4 separate regions of the Homo sapiens genome follow, and regions 1, 3 and 4 are each linked to region 2. Evidence: fine-mapped QTL for protein levels in blood plasma. Region 2 holds a variant in brackets. A gene starts in each other region. All regions are shown on their forward strands.

Region 1 (5,918 bases), not on the chromosome of region 2:
CTGGAGGCCCCACAACCCCTCCACACCTCACACCACTTCCCTGCCCAGCTTCTGAGCCTCCCTCTCCTGCCCAGCCTCTTTGCCCATCCTATTCTCTCACCCCCTGGTTCCCAGAGTTGCCTCTACATCTTGACATCACCTCCCCCTGGAAGCCTTCCAGGGATGCCCCTTCTCTACCTGTGGAGATGCCAGGTTCTCAGTGGACCACTCTCTCTGCCTGACCTCCTGGCTCTCTCCCCTTCTCAGCATCCTTCTGCCTGGCGCCTGGCCTCCCCAGTTCCCGGAGGGCAGAGGGTGCCTCTGCTCCCCACCGGCACCCGTGGGCAGACCCAGCAGGCGGGTTCTGGCGGGGAGGAAGGAAGTACTTACTGAGCAGCGTCCTCTGTGTGAGCAGTACCCCCATGCTGGGTGCCCGTGCTCCGGCCCGCGCCCGCTGGGGGTGACACCTCTCGGCTGGGAGCCCTGCAGGCTGGCAGCCACTTTATGCCCGCTGGGGCGATTGGCCAACACCTCATGAGGTGGGTGGGGATGGGGAGGGGGGAGGGCAGGCCTTCTGGGAACATGACCCCAAAAACCAAAATTTCCACGGGCGGCCAATGGGCGCAGGGCGCGGTGTATGCCCGCTCCTCCTCCTGTTTTCTTCGAATTCGTTCTTCGAGGTCAGCCCTACGCCCAAGGATGATGTAAAACCGCAGCCTCAGCCTTCCTAGGGTGAGTGGGGAGGAAAAGGGTCCATGCCATCTTCAGGGAACTGGGCCAGGGATGGGCAGGAGGGACTTCGAGCTGGGCCTCTGGAGGCCCCAGGCCAGTCTTGGCCCAGGAGCCATTGGCCTCACAGGACACGGTGGTTGGGGGCTGAGGGGAGCGAGACATCTTCCTTCTTGAGTGCCCTTCCTGCCCTCTCGCCGGGGCTGTTGGGACATCTGTGAGCGGAAACCACCGGGCTCTGGGCACAGAGCCAGACGCAGGCTGGCAGCCCCGAGATTGTGGTTCAGGCCCCAGGACCAGCATCCCCCAGCCCGGCTCCCGACGGTCTCCTTTCCCCCATCGTGCACCCTCTGCCAGGCCCACTCCCCAAAGCCAGGCCTTGTCTTTGTAGGCAGGCTCCACTGGGGAGAACTGGACACTTGGAGCAAGAGAAACAGGAGGCCAGGGTTCAAGCCTGCTGAGGTGCTGTGTGACCTGAGGCAAGTCACTTAACCTCTCTGGGCCTCAGAGACCCACAACTATAAAATGAGGAGGAGAAAAGCCTTTCCCAGCCCACCTCACAGGGTTGCTGCCAGCATGGACATAAAAGGAAAAGACCTCTGAAGGAAAAAGCAAAGATGAAGGTCTGATTCCAAGTATTAGCTGTCGAGGGGGCGGGATGGGGGAAGGAGGAGATGGGGAAGCTGTGAGCTCAGAGGGGAAGCCGGGGAGGGGGAGTTGCCGCCTTGACAGTTGGGGACCAGGTTTCACTTTCTCTGAAAGATAGCGATCTTAGGTTGGTCCTCTGCGAAAGGGCCCTGGGAACAGCGCCTCCCTAGTCAAACTGCTACTTTACTGTGGGGTAAACTGAGGCCTGGGTGAAGGCAGACAGGGAGGCCAAGAGGCTGGCCCAGGCCTATAGACCCTGCCTGGTCAGCACATCTCCCAGGCCCAGAGGAGGGTCCTTGGCCTGCACCCTAAGAAGCCCGGGTGGGAGGAGGCCCTCAGGAGTCTGGGGAGTCAGGGTGGGACTCCTGGAGGCTGCCAGGGAGGCCTGAGCTGCTCCAGCTGGAGGGAGCATGGGGTCTGGGGCGCCTGAGCAAGGAGAGCTGGGGCAGCCAGAAAGGAGGAGGTTGGATGCACCCCTGTCCATGCCTGCTCCCGATGCCCACTGTGGCCACCAAGGCAGTTGCCACCCATTCTCCCCATCACTCATTTATTCATTCGACAAACCTTTATTTGGCTCCATGCTGCACCAGCCACTCCCAGGTCTGAGGATCACGTAGTAGGCAAAAATAGGCGACCCCACGCCCAGGAGGCTGCTCTTCAGCCCCTACCCACTCCCCGGCACCCAGGCTGGGACTCACCACACCAGGCCTCATACCTCCCCCTCACCACCCCCAGGGGCCAGTTCTGGATTCTCATCCTGAGAATGTCGCTTCCGCTGAAGTCCTCATCTCTGTGCCCACCCCCACAATGCTGTTTCCTGGGGCCATGCCAAGAGGGGATCCTTCTCCATTTCACATCCCTGATCTCGTCTTTTTTTCTCTTTTTTTAAATGCAGGATCTTGCTCTGTCACCCAGGCTGGAGTGCAGTGGCGCCATTGTAGGTAGCTCACTGTGGCCTCCAGCTCCTAAGCTGAAGCAAGGCTCCCCGCCTTAGTCTCCTGAGTAGCTGAGACCACAGGCATGCATCACTATGCCCAGCTAATTTTTTTATTTTTTGTAGAGACGGGGTGTCACTATGTTGCCCAGGCTGATAACAAACTCCTGGGTTCAAATGATCCTCCTGCCTTGGCCTCCCAAAGTGCTGGGATTGCAAGCGTGAGCCACAGCACCCAGCCACCGATCTCATCCTGCAACAGCCAGGGGAGAGAAGCCGCTGGGCAGTGACACCTCAGCTCACTTCAGTGAGGAGCTCGAAGCTCTGGGAAGTTTAGGGGCTGGCTCAAGGAAGGAGCGCCAGATCTGAGCAGAGGGGTCTAGGCCATTTTCAGCTGTGGCTGACCGACCACCACGCTTGGTGAGAAACAGCCACATGCCTTTATCTTATTCTATCTATCCTGTGGTCCAGGGAGGCCGTGCTGTCTCCTCATGGCAGAGAGAGGAGGTTGCTTTGTCTGAGGTCACCTATGAATAGTTAAGAGGAGAGGGGCATTTGGCCAGGCATGGTGGCTCACGCCTGTAATCCCAGCACTTTGGGAGGCCGAGGCAGGAGGGTCATTTGAGCCCAGGACTTCGAGACTGTGTCTTTACAGAAAATGTAAAAATAAATTATCCAGACATCGTAGTGCATACCTGAAGTCCCAGCTACTAGGGAGGTTGAGGCAGGAGGATCGCTCGAGCCCCGAAGGTTGAGGCTGCAGTGAGCCATTATCATGCCACAGGACTCCAGCCTGGGTGACAGAGCAAGGCCCTGTTTAAAAAAAACAAAAAACAAAAAACCCACCAAGAAAAGAAGGCATTCAAACGAGGCCCAAAGACCATACTCTTTGCACATAGTTAATGAGGGTGTCAGGCACAGGGCCCAGGGCTCAGAGTCACTGAAGGTAAGGAGAGCAGGTAGATTACATTGCTAGGACTCCCATAACAAAGTACCACAGACTGGGGGGCTTACGTAACAGAGATTTATTTTCTCACAGTTCTAGAGGCTGAAGTCTGAAATCAAGGGCTGGTTCCCAAGGCCTCTCTCCTTGACTTGTAGATGACTGTCTCTCCCCGTATCTCCACATCATGTTCCTTCTGCTTGTCCGTGGCCTAATCGATTTTTTTTTTTTTTTGAGACAGAGTCTAGCTCCGTCACCCAGGCTGGAGTGCAGTGGCACGATCTCAGCTCACTACAACCTCTGCCACCTGGGTTCAAGCGCTTCTCCTGCCTTAGCCTCCTGAGTAGCTGGGATTACAGGCGTGTGCCACCACGCCAGGCTAATTTTTGTATTTTTAGTAGAGACAGGGTTTCGCCATGTTGTCCAGGCTGATCTCGAACTCCTAACCTCAGGTGATCCACCTGCCTCAGCCTCCCAAAGTGCTGGGATTACAGGAGCGAGCCACCGCGCTTGGCCTTATCTCTTCTTATGAGGACACCATTCACATTGGATTAGGGCCCACTCACATTTTACCTTAATTATTCCTTTTTTTTTTCTTTTTCGAGACAAAGTCTTGCTGTGTTGCCCAGGCTTAAGTGTACAGTGGTGCTTTCATAGCTCACTGCAGCCTTGAACTCCCGGCCTTAAGCGAGCCTCCTGCCTCAGCCTCCAGAGTAGCTGGGATTACAGGTATGTGCTACCACACCTGGCCAATTTTACCTTAATTACTTCTTTTTTTTTTTCTTTTCTTTTTTTTTTTTTTTTGAGATGGAATCTCACTCTGTCACCCACGCTGGAGTGCAGTGGCGCCAGCTTGGCTCACTGCAACCTCTGCCTCCCAGGTTCAAGCAATTCTCTGCCTCAGCCTCCCGAGTAGCTGGGACTACAAGTGCCCACCACCATGCCTGGCTAATTTTTGTATTTTTTTAGTAGAGACGGGGTTTCACCATGTAGGCCAGGCTGGTCTCGAACTCCTGGCCTCAAGTGATCTGCCTGCCATGGCCTCCCAAAGTGCTGGGATTACAGGCGTGAGCTACCGCACCCGGCCCTTAATTACTTCTTTAAAGGCTCAACTTCCAAATACAGTCACGTTCTGACACACGATGGTTAGGACTTCAACACATGAGTTCAGGGAAGACACCATTCAGTCCATGCAGCCTGCAAGAGGAAGGCATAGCTGGAGGGCACAGGGGCTGGGGCCACTGTCGGAGCATCCAGAGTGAAGTGATACACAGGAGGACAGGGAGTGGCTCGGAGGTGAGGAGGCCTGGCCGCTGACCATCCCAGCCAAGCGTGAGGAAAGATGCGTCAGCGTTTCTGGTGAGGTCAGCAATCAGTGACGTCCCTCTCACCAGCAGGAAAAGCTTGCAACATGGCCCAGCCAGTATAAATAGGCTCCCCGACCACAGGACCCGGGCTGTCCCCTCTTCCCGGGCCACGTCAGCCAGGCCCGCGTGATTTGGAGAGGAAGAGAGGACCAGCTTGGTTCCTCAGAACTGCTGCTTCCTCGCTTTCCGGCTTACCCTCTGCTGTGGGGCCCTACGCCTTTAAATGCAAGGATAGGACCTGAGATGGCCTGGCAGGGCCAGGTCGAAACTGGAGGCTGGGGAGAGGTGCTCTGGTGGGGGGAGAGAAGGTGGCCCCCAATCTGCTGGGTGGGAGGTGGAGACCAACCCAAGTTCCATCTCAATCTGCCTGTGAGCCCAGTGTCCCTGGACCAGTCATGTCCCCCTTCTGAGCCTCAGTTTCCTCTTTTTAAACTGCAATGACAACTGAACAACAATGAAAAAGACAAGCAATCCAATTTAAAAATGGGCAAAGGATTTTAATAGACATTTCTCCAAAAAAAAGAAGATATACAAATGGCCAAGAAGCACGTGAAAAGATGCTAAACACCAGGGAAATGCAAATCAAAACCACCATGAGAAGCCATTCCACATTCACTAGGGTGGCTATAATCAAAGGTAGACAATTACAAGTGCTAACGAGGAGATGGAGAGATGAGAACCCTGGGGCATTGCTGGTGGGAATCTACAATGAATGGTGCCACCAAATTGGAAAACAGTTTGGCAGTTCCGCAAATGGTTAAACACAGAGGCCAGAGGCAGTGGCTCACGCCTGTAATCCCAGCACTTTGGGAGGCTGAGGCCGGCAGATCACTTGAGGCCAGGAGTTTGAGACCAGCCTGGCCAACGTAGTGAAACTCCAACTCTACTAAAAGTACAAAAAATTACGCAGGCATGGTAGCACTCGCCGGTAGTCCCAGCTACTCGGGAGACTGAGGCAGGAGAATTGCTTGAACCTGGGAGGCGGAGGTTGCAGTGAGCCAAGATTGTGCCACTACCCTCCAGTCTGGGTGACAGAGTGAGACACTGTCTCAAAAAAAAAAAAAATAAATAGAGATATCATATAACCAACAATTCCACTCCTAGATATACACCCAAGAGAATTGAAAACATAGGCCAGGTGCAGTGGTCAGACCTGTAATCCCAGCACTTTGGGAGGCCAAGATGGGAGGATCACTTGAGCCCAGGAGTTCAAGACCAGCCTGGCCAAAAAAGTGAGACCCCATCTCTACAAAACATTTAAAAATTAGCTGAGCATGGTGGCTTGCACCTGTGTGGTCCCAGCTACTCAGGAAGCTGA
Region 2 (6,077 bases):
TAGCTGGGACTACCACCACACCAGGCTAATTTTGTGTGTGTGTATTTTTAGTAGAGACAGGGTTTCTCCATGTTGGCCAGGTTGGTCTTGAACTCCTGGCCTCAAGTGATCCACCCGCCTCAGCCTCCCAAAGTGGTGGGATTACAGGTGTGAGCCACCGCGCCCGGCCTAAGTGAATAACTTTTAGAAAGCATGCTTAGTAGTAGGGTTTGAAAAATGTTAGCTCCTCCTGCCCCTTCACACTGCTAGAAAGTGCTTTTTTGTGTTTTTCTCAAACTTGCCCACCCAGGACTTCTGCTATGATTTCCAACCTGCCTCCTGGGACGTTAGGCACGTCTTTGTCTTCCAGGCCGGGATGTCTGTCCTCTACCTCCCAGCTGCGAGAGAGCTCTTAATTGGTCACCTGGGTAGGGGTAAGGAGGAGAGGGAGGGGACAAGCTGCTCCCTGGGCACTCACTGTCTGTTGGATGGTCAGTCCCCATGGGTGTGTTATATGCTCAGTGGGGACAAGGTTGGGGGGGACACCATGATACTGACGATATGCAGAGAGAAACTGGATAGGCATGGAAGAAGCTGCATTTACCACACAAAAGAAGATCCCTTGGCCCCCTATCCCTATCTCCAACCCAGATTTCCCTGGACTCTTCACGGGGGTTACTTCAGGGGGATTCCCTGGTAGCCTCACAGGCTCAGGGGCAGGACTGCTGTTGATAGATATAGAAAGTGCCAGAATAGAGGAAGATGTAAAAAGTGAAGGAATAACTGAAGAAGGAGACCCTTGGAAATACTTCCTCAAATACCAGAACACTAGGCATGGGCCCAGAGCCTCCCAGAGAGTGGGAAAATGAGCTGGAGAGAACTCTGTAATGCCTGCAGGGGGCTGTTGGATGCCCACTGGCCAGAAATGCCTCTGCAGGCAGTAGGCATTGGGTGTGAAGCAGGGCCAGCCAGCCTCAAAGGCCCCTTCCCATGAACTCAAAATTACCTGCTCTGGCACCCCCAGGTCCTCAGATTCTAGAGCTCAGAATCCTAGATCTAAAACTCTGATCCTGAGGTTCTAGAGAGGGGTAAGAAAACTTCAAGTAGCTGGGACTACGGGTGTGTGCCAGCATGCCTGGCTAATTTTTAAAAGAATTTTGTAGAGATGGGGTCTCACTTTGTTGCCTAGGCTGGGCTTAAACACCTGGTTTCTGCCTTGGCCTCCTGAGTGGCTAGGATTATAGGCATGAGCCACCGTAGCCAGCTTGAGCTAACTTTTTTTAAAGGTCAGATAGTGAATATTTTAGACTTCACAGGCCATATGGTCTTTATCACAACTACTCAACTCTTTGTAAACAGATGGGCACCGTTGTGTTCCAACAAAGCTGAATTTACAAAAGCAGACTGGATCTGGCCTTTGGACTATAGTTTGTCTACCCCTGTTCTCAAGTTTGACAATTGTGTGATCCTGATATTTATTCATTGATCTCATGCATTCTCAAGGTTCCAGAGCTTGGAGGTTCCAGGTCCAGATCCAAGTCAGATGGCAATGAAAGCCCTGGTCAGGTGGCTGTGTCAGGTCCCCTAGGGGCGCTCCGGCCACAACCCTGATGGCCCCACCCCTCCCTTCCCTGCAGGGCGATGGCAGCAGACCTGGGCCCCTGGAATGACACCATCAATGGCACCTGGGATGGGGATGAGCTGGGCTACAGGTGCCGCTTCAACGAGGACTTCAAGTACGTGCTGCTGCCTGTGTCCTACGGCGTGGTGTGCGTGCCTGGGCTGTGTCTGAACGCCGTGGCGCTCTACATCTTCTTGTGCCGCCTCAAGACCTGGAATGCGTCCACCACATATATGTTCCACCTGGCTGTGTCTGATGCACTGTATGCGGCCTCCCTGCCGCTGCTGGTCTATTACTACGCCCGCGGCGACCACTGGCCCTTCAGCACGGTGCTCTGCAAGCTGGTGCGCTTCCTCTTCTACACCAACCTTTACTGCAGCATCCTCTTCCTCACCTGCATCAGCGTGCACCGGTGTCTGGGCGTCTTACGACCTCTGCGCTCCCTGCGCTGGGGCCGGGCCCGCTACGCTCGCCGGGTGGCCGGGGCCGTGTGGGTGTTGGTGCTGGCCTGCCAGGCCCCCGTGCTCTACTTTGTCACCACCAGCGCGCGCGGGGGCCGCGTAACCTGCCACGACACCTCGGCACCCGAGCTCTTCAGCCGCTTCGTGGCCTACAGCTCAGTCATGCTGGGCCTGCTCTTCGCGGTGCCCTTTGCCGTCATCCTTGTCTGTTACGTGCTCATGGCTCGGCGACTGCTAAAGCCAGCCTACGGGACCTCGGGCGGCCTGCCTAGGGCCAAGCGCAAGTCCGTGCGCACCATCGCCGTGGTGCTGGCTGTCTTCGCCCTCTGCTTCCTGCCATTCCACGTCACCCGCACCCTCTACTACTCCTTCCGCTCGCTGGACCTCAGCTGCCACACCCTCAACGCCATCAACATGGCCTACAAGGTTACCCGGCCGCTGGCCAGTGCTAACAGTTGCCTTGACCCCGTGCTCTACTTCCTGGCTGGGCAGAGGCTCGTACGCTTTGCCCGAGATGCCAAGCCACCCACTGGCCCCAGCCCTGCCACCCCGGCTCGCCGCAGGCTGGGCCTGCGCAGATCCGACAGAACTGACATGCAGAGGATAGAAGATGTGTTGGGCAGCAGTGAGGAC[T/C]CTAGGCGGACAGAGTCCACGCCGGCTGGTAGCGAGAACACTAAGGACATTCGGCTGTAGGAGCAGAACACTTCAGCCTGTGCAGGTTTATATTGGGAAGCTGTAGAGGACCAGGACTTGTGCAGACGCCACAGTCTCCCCAGATATGGACCATCAGTGACTCATGCTGGATGACCCCATGCTCCGTCATTTGACAGGGGCTCAGGATATTCACTCTGTGGTCCAGAGTCAACTGTTCCCATAACCCCTAGTCATCGTTTGTGTGTATAAGTTGGGGGAATTAAGTTTCAAGAAAGGCAAGAGCTCAAGGTCAATGACACCCCTGGCCTGACTCCCATGCAAGTAGCTGGCTGTACTGCCAAGGTACCTAGGTTGGAGTCCAGCCTAATCAAGTCAAATGGAGAAACAGGCCCAGAGAGGAAGGTGGCTTACCAAGATCACATACCAGAGTCTGGAGCTGAGCTACCTGGGGTGGGGGCCAAGTCACAGGTTGGCCAGAAAACCCTGGTAAGTAATGAGGGCTGAGTTTGCACAGTGGTCTGGAATGGACTGGGTGCCACGGTGGACTTAGCTCTGAGGAGTACCCCCAGCCCAAGAGATGAACATCTGGGGACTAATATCATAGACCCATCTGGAGGCTCCCATGGGCTAGGAGCCAGTGTGAGGCTGTAACTTATACTAAAGGTTGTGTTGCCTGCTGAGCTGTGCCCTATTGTGTGGTCGGGGGATGAGGATATGGCAGGGAAGCTTTCACCAGCCACACAAGGGTCCTTTCTCCAATCCGTTCCCTTCTGCCACCTGCCTTCTCACTAGCTGTCTCAGGAGTAGTCTCATATCAGGGATCCTCTCTCCAGGCCCCAGGTCATCCCCCACTGTAAAGCCAGTTGGCTTCTGTGCCTGACTCTGTGCTGAGCACAGAGAAAAGTCAGGTGCAGTCCCAGTCCTTGAGATTTCCCAGTTTAGGTGATGGCCAGTCATGTGCTGGTAAATGTTAAGCCATTTAACTGGAGCTCCGATTTAACTGGGAACCCCTTCTTTGTAGAACTGCCCATTTCCATGGTGCAAAAACTCTTATGGCCAAATTCAAACTATAAACATGATGTCAACTTCCTTGTAAAATTCCTGAAAATTTAACAATTGGTTCTTGCAAGCAGGTACAAGTCACTCTAGCACACCACTGGATAATGCCGAGTGGCTGGGGCTGTGAGCCAGGGGGTCAGGGAAGGGTTCCTGGAGTGGGAGACTCCTGAGCTGTAGCTTCTGAGAAAAGCAGCTCACCGGAAGAACATCCACACACAGGATGCATCCCAGGCAAAGACATGGGGCAAGAGGGCAGGGTGTGCATGAGCCATAAGCAGGCTGGACAGCTGACTCCAGGCTCAAGGCAGGGTTGGGGCTGGGTCACAAGGAGGCCAAGTTAGGGCTCCCTCCTTGCCCTGACCCTGAGGCTTCCTTTGCACTGGGGGTAAATATGAAAGAGATTCACTCCTCCTCCTGTCCATCGTCTGCCTTCTGGGAAAATCCCAGAATGGCAGGGTGGTGCTCAGGCTGGGTCAGGACTTAGTATGGGGGAGATGGGTCTCACCTATGATAGGTTCTGAGTCTAGCCAGGACCACTCTGGGCTGACGTGTGGCGCTCAGCTGGACAGGGCCCCGCCCTAGCCTTTGGAAAGGGACAGGGCAAAGCTGACAGGCCTCACTCTTGATCTCAAGGACAGGGACTCCCTCCTCTCCCTCTGGGAGAGCCCTCGCCCTGTGGCCCACTCTGCCTGCCCCCTCTGACCTCTCCACCCTTCCCACTCTGCCTTGTGAAAGGCAGGACATCCCCAAAGCTTGCTGTATTTGGAGCCTGACTCCACAGCGCCCTCATGTGACAGAGACCCATCACAGACCATGACCCAAATGATTACTCTGTACTGTGCCAGGTGGGTGACCTGCCCAGAATAGTGTGAGCTATTCACCTCTCACCTTCTAGGTTCTATACTTCTGTTAATGTAGCCGATGTCCTTCTGAGTTTTTTTTTTCTTTTTGAGACGAAGTCTTGTTCTGTCACCCAGGCTGGAAGTGCAGTGCTGCGGTCTTGGCTCACTGCAACTCTCTGCCTCCCGGGTTCAAGCAATTCTCCTGCCTCAGTTTCCCAAGTAGCTGGGATTACAGGTATGCGCCACCACACCTGGCTAATTTTTGTATTTTTAATAGAGACAGGGTTTCGCCATGTTGGCCAGGCTGGTCTCAAACTCCTGACCTCAAGTGATCCACCTGCCTCAGCCTCCCAAAGTGCTGGGATTACAGGTATGAGCCACCGCACCCGGCCCCTCTTGAGCTTTCTTAATGATTGCCTGTTACAAACCACCCTTGAGCCTTTCCCACAGGCCCGAGCCACTCCACAAGGACACAGGAGGGGCTCGTTCACCATCTAATCCTGTGGCAGGCACAGGTGGGGGTGGATACTGGAGACCCTGGGTGAACCAGGGGCACCTCTGGAACCCAGTTGGACTGCCTGGCCCCTTGGTATGCACGTCCCACCTTGCTGCTCAGTGCCCAGGCCACTTGCCTTGTGGGTGAAGTTCCTGCCCTGATGCCTCATGCTATTTTCAGCCCAAGTAAGACCATAATTTTCCACTCCTGGCCCCAGACCATTGTCCAGCAGTGACGTGAGGGGATCTGCCTGCCCTCAAAATATCTCCTATTACCCTCCAATATTCCCTGCCCCCTTCACACCTCCCTAACCTGACATCACTTCCTGGGCTGTTGACTCATGAAGGCCACTGTGAAAGGGCACGTGAGTTGCCCATCCACTGAGCAGACCCCAGGGATTATCCAGCCCAGCTGCAGACTCAAGGCCAGAGATGGGCAGGGCTGAGCCCAAGGTCATTCAGCAGGTCAGCGTGGCGCCTGGATGTAAGCAAGTGCCTTGGTGACGATCCTGCTGTCACTCACACTGCCCAGCTCTTCCTGCCCAGGGTGACTGGGATGGAGCCATAGACCTGAGGCCAGGGACAGGACAGGGATGGGAGGAAAGGGAGGGTAGAGAGTTGAGTGTCAGGGAGTAAATGTCTGCTGATGTGCCTGCAGCAGCTGTTCTCAATGAACTGCATGACATCAGGGCAGGGTCCCTGGCACACAGGGGTCTCTGCCCTGGGTGGCAGGTGTCCCAGGGTCCAGGAGGGATGGAGGAACCCCAGGGTACATTCCCACTTTCACCCCCTGAGGTTAGAAGAGGCCCTAAGCAACATGTTATCCACACATGGTTGCTCCAGGTCAAGTCACCAAAGCTACCTCTCTGTCACCCTTGTCATGGCAGATTTGGGCTGCTCTGTTTAGAATCAGGCACATGAGGGAGGGAAGTCGTGTATTGACCCATGTCCCACGCACCCTCTCAT
Region 3 (6,035 bases), not on the chromosome of region 2:
CGTGAGCCACCGCGCCTGGCCTCATCACTCTTAAATAATGAAAAACTAAATTTTTAGAGGAAAAAGAAAATCACAGGACCCTGTGAAGGAAGGTATGTGTTCCCTTTTTCTATAGATTCTCTTTGTCCTGTGTCCTTGGTAGGCAGAGACCATTAATCCAACTGCTGCCCCTACTAGTGATTTTCCAATCATAAACCAATCCGATTCTTTGCAGTAGGTACCGATCTAACCAAGATTCTGAAAGAAAAATCAATCTCATGATTATTGTAAAATTCAGACCCTCAATATTTACTACACAAATAATGAATGAGTAAAGAAACGAATGACTATTGTTCACTTCTGGTTTTACCTATAAATATCAGCAGTTTTTATAGCAATTTAGTTCATTGGCTCAAATGTTAAATCACTCCATGCTCACACTTATGTTCTCTATTGAGAGAAATTTCTGTTTTGTTTTTGGAAATGTAATTTGGAATTTCTTTATCCAAATTTCTGACAATACTTGTCTCTCTTTCTCTCCTTATATTCTGTTCATTTTCCTCAGAACAGATATAGAATAAAAGGCAATTTACCCAGATTGTCTGTGGAATTGGGATTATGAATTAATTTATAGCTATGCAATTTAATTACTGTATGGGTCAAACAGAACTTACAATTTTTCAAAGCAGTAGTACACAACAAAATGTAACTTATGCTAAACTATACTGAATATCATTTACTTTGCCTGCATAATTCATGAGGTACTTCAGGTTTTTGTAGTGCCTGAAGGACTCTTACAGAAATTATCGTTATATACACCAGATAAATTTGGTTCCCGAGCCCTCCGATGTATAGAATTCTGGATAAATGGGAGTTTGTGGTACAGTCCTAGCTCTACCACTTATTAGCTCCGTGAAACTGGATGATGTTGTTAGTCCTCCTGATGCCCAGTTAGCTCTCTGTAAAAGGGAGATAGTAATAGTACCAATCTCAAAATGTTATTGCGAAGATTCTGAGAAATAATACTCTGAAAGTGAATAACATATAGAATAACCTGTAGTAAATACTCAGTATAAATTGTTATAAATAAGTTGTCATCATCATCATCATTATAGCCTTCTTGTTTTTCTTTTAAGTAAATGGTATTAATTCTATTTTCCCATACTTGGGTGTTTAGCTTTCTAATCCCATTCTTCGGTGAATTTACATTTTGGGGCTAACACTGGGATTCTTTCCCTGTACACATTTTCCCATCCCTAGTACCTTTAGCTTTTTTTCCATTTGACTTCTCATCAGGCTGGTCCTTCACAGTCTGGATCTTTAGGTCATCAAAAGTCATTTCCAAATTCAAGCTAAGAATGAGAGAGTGAAGCAGTCACGAACTTCAACAAACTAAAAATATGTGAGCTTCTGCAGAAGTATTTAAATAGCTACTGTTATCTAATAGAAGAATGACTCAATCATTGGTAGGAGGAAGGAGAGGCTTTGCTTCATATTGGGAAGTTCGCTGACGCAAATTCTTGAGTTATGTGTATTGCAGGTGGAGAAAGTGGTGATTCTGAAGGTGTTTCAGGATATTTCGCTAAGTAATTTATGAAAGGGAAAACTATTTTTCATGAGCATCAGAGGAGAGATATTGTACCCACTCTTCAGAGACAGAAACTGAAATTCAAAGAGAGTAAGTCACACTACATTTGTAAAAAATGTGCCAGAATTATGGGCCAAAATATTTGATTCCAATGTTTGTTTGCTAATTTCATTAGCAGACTGTTTCTATATGGTGTCTTTTACGAATCAGATATATTCTCTTTTGATTTTCACTGTTTTATCTGGCAATGGATCTAAGAATTTTGGGGTGAATCACATATGGCTCCCATTTCCAGCGATGGTGTGTCCTGGGTGATTTTAGAATTTATCTGGGGCTACTAGTTCATGCAGTGCCAGTGTAACGTAGCAGCAGAGAGCACTTTGAATGCAGAAAGAGCTAGTTTCAGTACTTTCCTTTAGTCTACAATCTTGGGAAATCTTAATACTTTGAATCTATGTCTTTGTCTGGAAATTAGGGATAATGTCTACCTGATAACATTGTTATAGGAATTCAAATGACATGTCTGGAAATTAGGGATAATGTCTACCTGATAACATTGTTATAGGAATTCAAATGACATGCTGGGTAAAAATAATAAGCTTTTTTACACTAGGTTTGTGAAAAATGTCACGTTGCTATAGGAATTCAAATGACACGCTGGTTAAAAATGACAAGCTTTGTACTTGGAGCATAATAAGAAGCCAATAAATAATAATTATTAGTATAGTACTAATATTCAGCACAGTTGAATTACCCATCAAATAATGTATTTCAGTAAAATCCATGATTGACTCATGTCACAAAGACGCTTACATGAGAGACCCATAAGTATGTCTATATGTATTTACTGATAGAATACTTTTCTATTTTCCCTTGACAACCTCCTAACCAGATATATATCTATTAGAGATGTCTTCTGAAGGAAGTATTTATAAGCAAAATGATATGATATCTGGCATTTACTTTAAATTACTCCAGGAAAAAAAAGTGCAAAGAAAAGAATACACAAAGGAAGAATGGAAAAATAAATACATAAATAAAACATATAGGAAACTATTAGGAAAAATTACCAATATTGACAGCCTAATTAGGATTCCATTTCCCTCCTCCTCCCTGTTTCCTATATTCCTTTTATTATGTGCAGAGTATTTGAGAACAAATTGAAAAAGTTGGCCAGGTGCAGTGGCTCATGCCTGTAATCTCAGCACTTTGGGAAGCTGAGGGGGGGGGTGGATCACTGAGGTCAGGAGTTCGAGACCAGCCTGGCCAACCTGTTGAAACCCTGTCACCACTAAAAATACAAAAGTTAGCTGGGCCTGGTTGCAAGCCTATAATCCCAGCTATTTGGGAGGTGGAAAATGAAAATGCTTTTCATTTTCAGTGAGCTGAGATTGTGCCACTGTACTCCAGCCTGGGCAACAGAGCGAGACTCCCTTTAAAAAAAAAAAAAAAAAAGAATTAAAAAATACTGAAACGATATCACACTGAAAAGGGCACATTATCATTTCTACAGTGACTCAGTTATTTTGGATGCCATGAATATTATAGAACATAAAGTGTTTACCATTTCAACCATTTTTAGGTGTACTGTTCAGTGGCATTAAGTACATTTACATTGTTGTGCAGCCATCACCACCATCCATCTCCAGAACTTTTCATCTTCCCCAACTGAAACTCTATACCCACCAAGCAATAACTCCTGTGATGGTGAATTTCATGTGTTTTGTTTGTTTGTTTGTTTGTTTGTTTTTGAGATGGAGTTTCACCCTTGTTACCCAGGGTGGATTGCAATGGCATGATCTCGGCTCACTGCAACCTCCGCCTCCTGGGTTCAAGCAATTCTCCTGCCTCAGCCTCCTGAGTAGCTGGGATTACAGGTGCCCGCCACCCCTCCCGGCTAATTGTTTTGTATTTTCAGTAGAGACAGGGTTTCACCATGTTGGCCAGGCTGGTCTTGAACTCCTGTCCTCAAGTGATCCGCCTGCCTCAGCCTCCCACAGTGCTGGGATTACAAGCGTGAGCCACCGTGCTGGCCTTCTGTGTCTTCTTGACTGGGTCATGGGGTTCCCAGACAGGATGCTTTTAAATGAGATTAACATATTAATCAGAAGAGGAAAGTAGATTTCGCTGCATAATGTAGGTGGGCCTCATCCAAAAGTTGAAGGCCTAAAGAACAAAAAGCTTCTAACCTTCCCCCAAATAAGAAAGAATCCCCCAGCTGTCTATGGACTGGAACTCAGCCATCAACTCTCCCAGTTCTCCACTCGCTGGCCGAGTCTGGCAGCCCACACTCCAGATTTTAAATTACCAGGCTCTATAATCATACAAGCCAATTCCTTATAATAAACCTATTTCTATGTATGTACACAGCGTATTGATCCTCTTTCTCTGCACAGACCTAATACAAATCCCAATTCCTTTCTCCTTTCTTGGAAACCACCGTTCCATTTTTTTGTTTCTATAAATTGGTTTATTTTAGGCACCTCATACTGGTGGAATCATATAATATTTGTCCTTTTGTATCTAAATTATTTTATTTAGCATTATGTCTTCAACAATTATCAATGTGGTAGCATGTGTCAGAATTTTGTTCCTTTTAAAGTCTGTATAATATTCCATTGTATGTATAAACCACATTCTACATTTTATTTATCCATTGATGGACGTTTGGGTTTATCCTGTTTTTAAAGATCAGTGGGATAGTTTCTACAGTCCTTGTGTGGCAGATAACTGGACAGATTTGAAAAATTTTAGAGGGCTCTCATTATTCCTGCCTCCTGGTGTTCATGATCTTGTGTAATCCTTCCCCTTGAGTGTGAGTGAGACCTATGACTTGGAGTGTAGCAGAGGTGCTGGAATGTATGTGATCATCTACGTGTGCTTATGTAAGGTATAGTGACTATTATGCTAAAGTCACTCTCCCTCTCCTATTTCCATCTTTATCTCCCTGTCTAGATTTTTAAAAGCAAGCTTAAATGGATCCTGCAGCCATAGAGAAATAAATTCTGCCTGAGGGAGCTTGCAAGTGAATCTTCCCAGGCTCACCTGAGAATGCATGATGAGAGTGCAACCCAGCAGCCACCTTGACTGCAGCCTTGTGAGACATCAAGCAGAGGACCCAACTAAGTTGTGCCCACACTTCTGACTCACAGATACTTTGAAATAATAAAAGTACATTGTTTTACCTTGCTGCTCACATAATTTGTGGTGATGTGTTACACAGCATATCAACCTAAAACATTCTATGATAAACTGAATCCTTCTGTCTTGTTTAACTTTTTTAACTCTAATCTTTTTACTGATTTCAGTGCCTTTGAAGCTGTCACTCAATCCCTATGCTGTGATCTTGGCTTATCAGACAGAAACACTTCCCAAGGGATCTCCCAAGGGTTGCAAAGATGAAACTTCTTCTGCTATATTATTTATTTTTGAAATCAGGGCTGTGGCCCTACCCACTGACTTATAGTTTGAGGTTGATGCCTCAGAGTCCTGGCCTCTATTTTATTGAGGCACAGAGAGGAAAGAAATCCATAGTTGGCCACCTGACTTAGGCAAGGTCAAAAGGAGAATGATCAGTGGAACCAGAAGTAAGCAATTTGTTTGGCTACACTTGTTACACCAGTTGTATAACAATTCCCTGAAGCATAGGTGTAAAACTCTATGTACATGCACCCTCTACTGGTTCCACTCCAAGTCCTTAACTACCTGGACATAAGCTAATGATTCACAAGCTTAATGGAACTGCACAAGATTGTATAGGATTGTAATGAGACCATTTCCCTCTATCCCAGCTACCTGCCCTTCTGTACCTGTCCAAAGTGTACTTCGTTCAGTCTTCTTGTCTGAATTATCTTTCTTCTTTCATCATTCCCTATATGGAGGCTTGGTTAGGGACAGGATTCAGAGTTAAAGCTGCCCCAAGGCATAATCTCATTCATTAGGATAAAAACAAACTTTTATCTTTCCAGGGACTAATCTGGTGAGAAAAAAAAAAAGGGTAGTAATAATTCTAAGAAAGGAAAGTCACAAGGAGGTCATTAACAGAACCTATTTTGTTCAAACCTGTTTGGAAGCTGGAGGGCAAAAAGATGATGGCAATTACGTGTTAGAAAAGTGCAATGCGAGCGGGGAGTCATGTTAACCAGCAAACCTGTTTAGGCAGGTGAAGGCTGGCGTGGTTGGGAGAAAAGGTGGCCAGGCTAGCAAGGAAAAATATTCAAGAATTAGAATATCAGGAGACTAAAATGTGGTCTGGAGAGGGAATGGTATAAAAATATACAAGAGAAGCATAAAGGACAGTAATTATCCAGAATCTTGAAAGTAAAGGTCACTGGTAAACTTTAGTGAAAATCAAAATAATCTTAGCAAACACAAAAAATATCAGGACTGTTATATTCATTTTACACACATTAACTTATTTAATCTGTATAAGGCTATCAAGTAAATATTACTACTATTACCCCCATTT
Region 4 (5,910 bases), not on the chromosome of region 2:
ATATTTGCTAACACTTTGAGCCTTACAACCACCCCATGAAGGAAGCACTATTATTACTCCAATTTTACAGATGGGGAAACTGAGGCACTGAAATGTTGTGTCAGTTGCCCTTGTCACACAGCAAGTCAGTGGCAGAGCTGAGATTTGAACTTAGGCAGCCTGGCTCCAGAGTGCAGGCTCTTGCTCTGTGACCACTCTGAGCCTCAGTTTCCTCATTGCATGATGAGGGTAATTGGAATACATAAATCCACTTTCCTTTCTTGATGCCTGATTCTCTGGTAATTAATTATTCATTCAATTTCTCCCCATGCTGAACTCTCAGATCCATGAACAATGAGACAAAGGCTATCTTGGTCACTACTTGTATTCCCAATTCTTAGCATAATGATTGGCCTAGAAAAACTCAACTAGAATGTGTTGAGTAAATGGTCTTTAAAAGGTCTGAAGATCATCAACAATGGTTTGAGTATCTGATAAAAGTTTTAGACCCTTTACATAGAAAAATCAACATATACCAGTAGCTGGGGGTGAGTCTGCCCCTCCCACTCACCCAGGGTACATTTGGCAATGTTTGGTAACATTTCTGGTTGTCACAACTGGCAGGGGGAGGTGCTACTGGCATCCAGTGGGTAGGGGTCAGGGACGCTGCTAAACATCCTACAATGCACACGACAGCCCCAAGTGCCAATAGTGCTAAGTTTGAGCTATGTGACATACATACATAGATATGTATTGTATGTCATGTTTGGTACCATTGATGGCAAGTGGGGGGTAGTTAACGGATTTTCCTAAAAGCCCGTGTCTGCCACCCAGATGAAGATCCTCCAGATTGGAAGATCTGTTCCTCTAAACTCATATTACTCTATGACCTCACATTCCCGAGTCTAGAATCTAGTTCCTCCTGGGTCCCCTGTCCTAGCCTCTGATTCCCTAAATGCCTGGGCCTCCTCTCTTACCTTCAGTGGGTAGCAGGGGACCAGAGGAGAAGCATCCAGGTTTTATGTGCTGCCCCTGTCACCGCATCCACCTACCCACTTCTATACCTGGGTCATCACAGTTCCCTGTAAATGGTAATAAAGATGAAAAGCTTCAGAGCCAGGCAGTTCTGGGCTTGAACACTAGTTCTGTGGATTAACTCGCTCTGTGATCACAGGCAAATTCCTTAACTCTCTGAGCCTTAGTTTCCCCCTCTGAAAACAGGAGGGATACTCATTAAACTTACCTTACAGGTGGTGAGGATGAAACGAGAGGCTTATAGAGAACTTATTACGGTGCTTGACACAGTAAATCTCAAAAAATGCATTATTATTATTATGGTTCAGAGGTAAAGTGACTTGCCCAAGGTCACATAGCTGGAAAATGGCAGAGCCGGGATGGAAATCCAGGACTTCGTGACTGCAAAGCAGATGTTCATTGGTTAGTGAACTTTAGAACTTCAACTTTTCTGTAAAGGAAGTTAATTATCTCCATCTCACAGTCTCATTTATTAGATAAGCATATAAAATGCCTGGCACATAGTAGGCCCTTTAAATACAGCTTATTGGGCCGGGCGCCATGGCTCATGCCCGTAATCCTAGCACTTTGGGAGGCCAGGTGGGCAGATCACTTGAGTCAGAAGTTCGAAACCAGCCTGGTCAACGTAGTGAAACCCCATCTCTACTAAAAATACAAAAAATTTAGCCAGGCGTGGTGGCGCACGCCTATAATACCAGCTACTCGGGAGGCTGAGGCAGGAGAATTGCTTGAACCCGGGAGGCAGATGTTGCAGTGAGCCGAGATCACGCCACTGCACTCCAGCCTGGGTGACAGAGTGATACTACACCCCCCAAAAATAAAATAAAATAAATAAATACAACTTTTTGAGTTGTTAGCAGGTTTTTCCCAAATAGGGCTTTGAAGAAGGTGAATATAGACCCTGCCCGATGCCGGCTGGCTAGGAAGAAAGGAGTGAGGGAGGCTGCTGGTGTGGGAGGCTTGGGAGGGAGGCTTGGCATAAGTGTGATAATTGGGGCTGGAGATTTGGCTGCATGGAGCAGGGCTGGAGAACTGAAAGGGCTCCTATAGATTATTTTCCCCCATATCCTGCCCCAATTTGCAGTTGAAGAATCCTAAGCTGACAAAGGGGAAGGCATTTACTCCAGGTTACACTGCAGCTTAGAGCCCAATAACCTGGTTTGGTGATTCCAAGTTAGAATCATGGTCTTTTGGCAGGGTCTCGCTCTGTTGCCCAGGCTGGAGTGCAGTGACATAATCATGGCTCACTGTATCCTTGACCTTCTTTCTGGGCTCAAGCAATCCTCCCACCTCGGCCTCCCAAAGTGCTAAGATTACAGGAATGAGCCACCATACCTGGCCCTGAATCTTGGGTCTTGGCCTTAGTAATTAAAACCAATCACCACCATCCGTTGCGGACTTACAACCTACAGTGTTCTAAACATTTTATATGTTTGATCTCATTTAATCCTCACATCAATTTAGGGACAAAGAGCCCCCCACCCCCCGTTTTTTTTTTTACAGCTGAGGAAACACTTCAAAGTGGTAAGACATTTGCCCGAGGTCCTGAAGGAAGAGAGTAAAGCCATGTCTGCTGTTTTCTAGAGGCTGCTACTGTCCCCTTTACTGCCCTGAAGATTCAGCCTGCGGAAGACAGGGGGTTGCCCCAGTGGAATTCCCCAGCCTTGCCTAGCAGAGCCCATTCCTTCCGCCCCCAGATGAAGCAGGGAGAGGAAGCTGAGTCAAAGAAGGCTGTCAGGGAGGGAAAAAGAGGACAGAGCCTGGAGTGTGGGGAGGGGTTTGGGGAGGATATCTGACCTGGGAGGGGGTGTTGCAAAAGGCCAAGGATGGGCCAGGGGGATCATTAGTTTCAGAAAGAAGTCTCAGGGAGTCTTCCATCACTTTCCCTTGGCTGACCACTGGAGGCTTTCAGACCAAGGGATGGGGGATCCCTCCAGCTTCATCCCCCTCCCTCCCTTTCATACAGTTCCCACAAGCTCTGCAGTTTGCAAAACCCTACCCCTCCCCTGAGGGCCTGCGGTTTCCTGCGGGTCTGGGGTCTTGCCTGACTTGGCAGTGGAGACTGCGGGCAGTGGAGAGAGGAGGAGGTGGTGTAAGCCCTTTCTCATGCTGGTGCTGCCACACACACACACACACACACACACACACACACACACACACACACACCCTGACCCCTGAGTCAGCACTTGCCTGTCAAGGAGGGGTGGGGTCACAGGAGCGCCTCCTTAAAGCCCCCACAACAGCAGCTGCAGTCAGACACCTCTGCCCTCACCATGAGCCTCTGGCAGCCCCTGGTCCTGGTGCTCCTGGTGCTGGGCTGCTGCTTTGCTGCCCCCAGACAGCGCCAGTCCACCCTTGTGCTCTTCCCTGGAGACCTGAGAACCAATCTCACCGACAGGCAGCTGGCAGAGGTGGGCAAACACCTAGTCTAGAGTTGGGGAGGGCTGTCCGTGAGGGTGTTGAGTGTCCCAGAGAGGATGCAGGGCCTCAGAGGAGATGCTTTAGGGGTGTGTTGGTGGTGATGGGCGTATCTGAAGAACAGAGGTGTCCAGGGTTAGGCAGTGGGGGGTCTTGTGGAGGCTTTGAGCAGTGATGGCCAGAAATGGGCAATGGGGCTTTCCTAGGTGGGAAATGGGAAATGGTTTGGGGTGGGGGAGGCATTGGAGGGTTCTGGGGTAAGCATAGGCTGGGAGTGAACAGGGGCAAACCTTATGCAGCTGTGGGGTAGAAATGGGCTAGAGGCATCCAGGGGTGAGAAGGAGCTGAGGATGTCTAAGGAGGGGAGATCCCTGGGTGGTCAGAAAGCACTGGTGTCTGGAAAGCATTTAATGCTTTATTAAATGTTAGTCCCTGCTGGGCATGACGGCTCACACTTGTAATCCCAGCACTTTGGGAGGCTGAGGTGGTAGGATCGCTGAAGCTCAGGAGTTTGAGCCCAGCCTAGGCAACATAGTAAGATCCTGTCTCTACAAAAAAATTAAAGAAATAGCCAGGCACAGTGATGTGCACCTGTAGTTCCAGCTATGCAGAAGGCTGAGATGGGAGGATCGCTTGAGTCCAGGAGGTCCAGGCTGCAGTGGGCTGATACCGTCTCTCCGAAAAAGAAAAAGAAAAAAGACTCCCTCCATGAGTGTCTGGAGGGAGTCCTTTGGCCCCAGCTGGGCAGAGAAAGGGGTCAGAGATCTGGCATGTGTGTGTCCCTTCATCCACAGGAATACCTGTACCGCTATGGTTACACTCGGGTGGCAGAGATGCGTGGAGAGTCGAAATCTCTGGGGCCTGCGCTGCTGCTTCTCCAGAAGCAACTGTCCCTGCCCGAGACCGGTGAGCTGGATAGCGCCACGCTGAAGGCCATGCGAACCCCACGGTGCGGGGTCCCAGACCTGGGCAGATTCCAAACCTTTGAGGGCGACCTCAAGTGGCACCACCACAACATCACCTATTGGTGAGCCGGGGCCGTGGGGGCAGCGGGGTGGGGCGGGGAGGCCAGGTCTGGCTCTTGGGCCAGCGGTGAACATGTCCTGTCTTGGACGCGTCCCTGGGTTTCACTATTTAATGTGTGGCCCCTGGGGAGTGTCCCCACCTCTGAGCCTCTGTTTCTCCTTCAGGGAAATGGCTCTTGCAATCCAAGTCCTCCTGCCAGGGCCATTGTGAGGGTCTAAGTAGACAAAAAAAAAAAAAAAAAAAACAGTCTGGAAGCAATTTATAGATGAGAGCGTGGACGGCAGAGAGCATTGTGTATGTTGAAGTCTCTGCGATATGGGGTGTCCCTGCTGCCCCGCTCCAGCCTTTCACTTCTGACCTCCTTCCTCTGGCTCTTACGCTACAGGATCCAAAACTACTCGGAAGACTTGCCGCGGGCGGTGATTGACGACGCCTTTGCCCGCGCCTTCGCACTGTGGAGCGCGGTGACGCCGCTCACCTTCACTCGCGTGTACAGCCGGGACGCAGACATCGTCATCCAGTTTGGTGTCGCGGGTGAGAACGTGAGGAGGGAAAATCCAAGAGACCTGGGCGGGGTCAGGGAAGGGAGGACCACGGAGAGCGTGGAGGCAGCAGTGGCCCCGGCTTCCTCTTGCCTGCCCGCGCTGCCCTGGCTTATACGGCCCCTCCTGCCAGACAGTGCACAGGGCCAGGGCGCCAGGCTGGGAGAGCTTCGCGCAGGCGGGATTTCAGCCCGCACTTATTTCGGAGCCCTTGCCTTGGGCAGCGCACAATCTGCGCAGCAGTACTCGGCTAACCCTCTTCCTCTCGACCTGTTTCTTCAGAGCACGGAGACGGGTATCCCTTCGACGGGAAGGACGGGCTCCTGGCACACGCCTTTCCTCCTGGCCCCGGCATTCAGGGAGACGCCCATTTCGACGATGACGAGTTGTGGTCCCTGGGCAAGGGCGTCGGTGAGATTCTGAGTCCTCCTGGCCCCTGATTCCCTTCATTCTCTCCCACTCATCACCCGCCGCCCTAACTCCGGTCCCCCCTCCTCCTGCAGTGGTTCCAACTCGGTTTGGAAACGCAGATGGCGCGGCCTGCCACTTCCCCTTCATCTTCGAGGGCCGCTCCTACTCTGCCTGCACCACCGACGGTCGCTCCGACGGCTTGCCCTGGTGCAGTACCACGGCCAACTACGACACCGACGACCGGTTTGGCTTCTGCCCCAGCGAGAGTGAGTGAGGGGGCTCGCCGAGGGCTGGGGGCGCCCACCACCCTTGATGGTCCTGGGTTCTAATTCCAGCTCTGCCACTAGTGCTGTGTGGCCTGCAATTCACCCTCCCGCACTCTGGGCCCAATTTTCTCATCTGAGAAATGATGAGAGATGGGATGAACTGCAGACCATCCATGGGTCAAAGAACAGGACACACTTGGGGGTTATAATGTGCTGTCTCCGCCTTCTCCCCC

Direction of the effects. Positions count from the first base shown, and alleles are read on the strand shown. Strength reflects both the effect of a copy and how common the allele is.
For the plasma level of the protein whose gene starts at base 455 in region 1, C is the high allele of the variant in region 2 and T is the other (weak association).
In carriers of allele C in region 2, the plasma level of the protein whose gene starts at base 1,373 in region 3 tends to be higher than with T alone (weak association).
In carriers of allele T in region 2, the plasma level of the protein whose gene starts at base 3,269 in region 4 tends to be lower than with C alone (moderate association).

The links. A credible set is the group of variants that fine-mapping cannot tell apart. PIP is the posterior inclusion probability: the model's chance that the variant is causal. The UK Biobank Pharma Proteomics Project read protein levels with antibody pairs (Olink). The fine-mapping took linkage between variants from a reference panel, not from the people measured, so its PIPs are less certain.
Region 1: OSM starts here. The variant in region 2 is the best candidate, but not a certain one, in a credible set for the plasma level of the OSM protein (UK Biobank, PIP 0.52).
Region 3: OLR1 starts here. The variant in region 2 is the best candidate, but not a certain one, in a credible set for the plasma level of the OLR1 protein (UK Biobank, PIP 0.72).
Region 4: it holds the start of MMP9, and the variant in region 2 is the best candidate, but not a certain one, in a credible set for the plasma level of the MMP9 protein (UK Biobank, PIP 0.64).

Annotation. Positions count from the first base shown.
Region 1 is chr22:30,266,397-30,272,314 of GRCh38, forward strand. OSM (oncostatin M) reads right to left here and starts at 455. Exons shown (of 3, transcript NM_020530.6): 1 at 370-455. The coding sequence starts at 403.
Region 2 is chr11:73,232,540-73,238,616 of GRCh38, forward strand. It overlaps P2RY2 (purinergic receptor P2Y2), which reads left to right. Exons shown (of 3, transcript NM_002564.4): 3 at 1,617-6,077. The coding sequence starts at 1,621. The coding sequence ends at 2,754. Among named protein-coding and RNA genes, the nearest start is that of P2RY2, 17 kb to the left of the region's middle. RefSeq lists enhancers at 4,670-4,719, 5,305-5,599. The variant T/C (reference allele first, on the strand shown) is at 2,695.
Region 3 is chr12:10,170,760-10,176,794 of GRCh38, forward strand. It overlaps OLR1 (oxidized low density lipoprotein receptor 1), which reads right to left and starts at 1,373. Exons shown (of 6, transcript NM_002543.4): 1 at 1,243-1,373. The coding sequence starts at 1,318. It also overlaps a transcript of TMEM52B not described here.
Region 4 is chr20:46,005,640-46,011,549 of GRCh38, forward strand. MMP9 (matrix metallopeptidase 9) reads left to right here and starts at 3,269. Exons shown (of 13, transcript NM_004994.3): 1 at 3,269-3,425; 2 at 4,227-4,459; 3 at 4,844-4,992; 4 at 5,283-5,411; 5 at 5,504-5,677. The coding sequence starts at 3,288.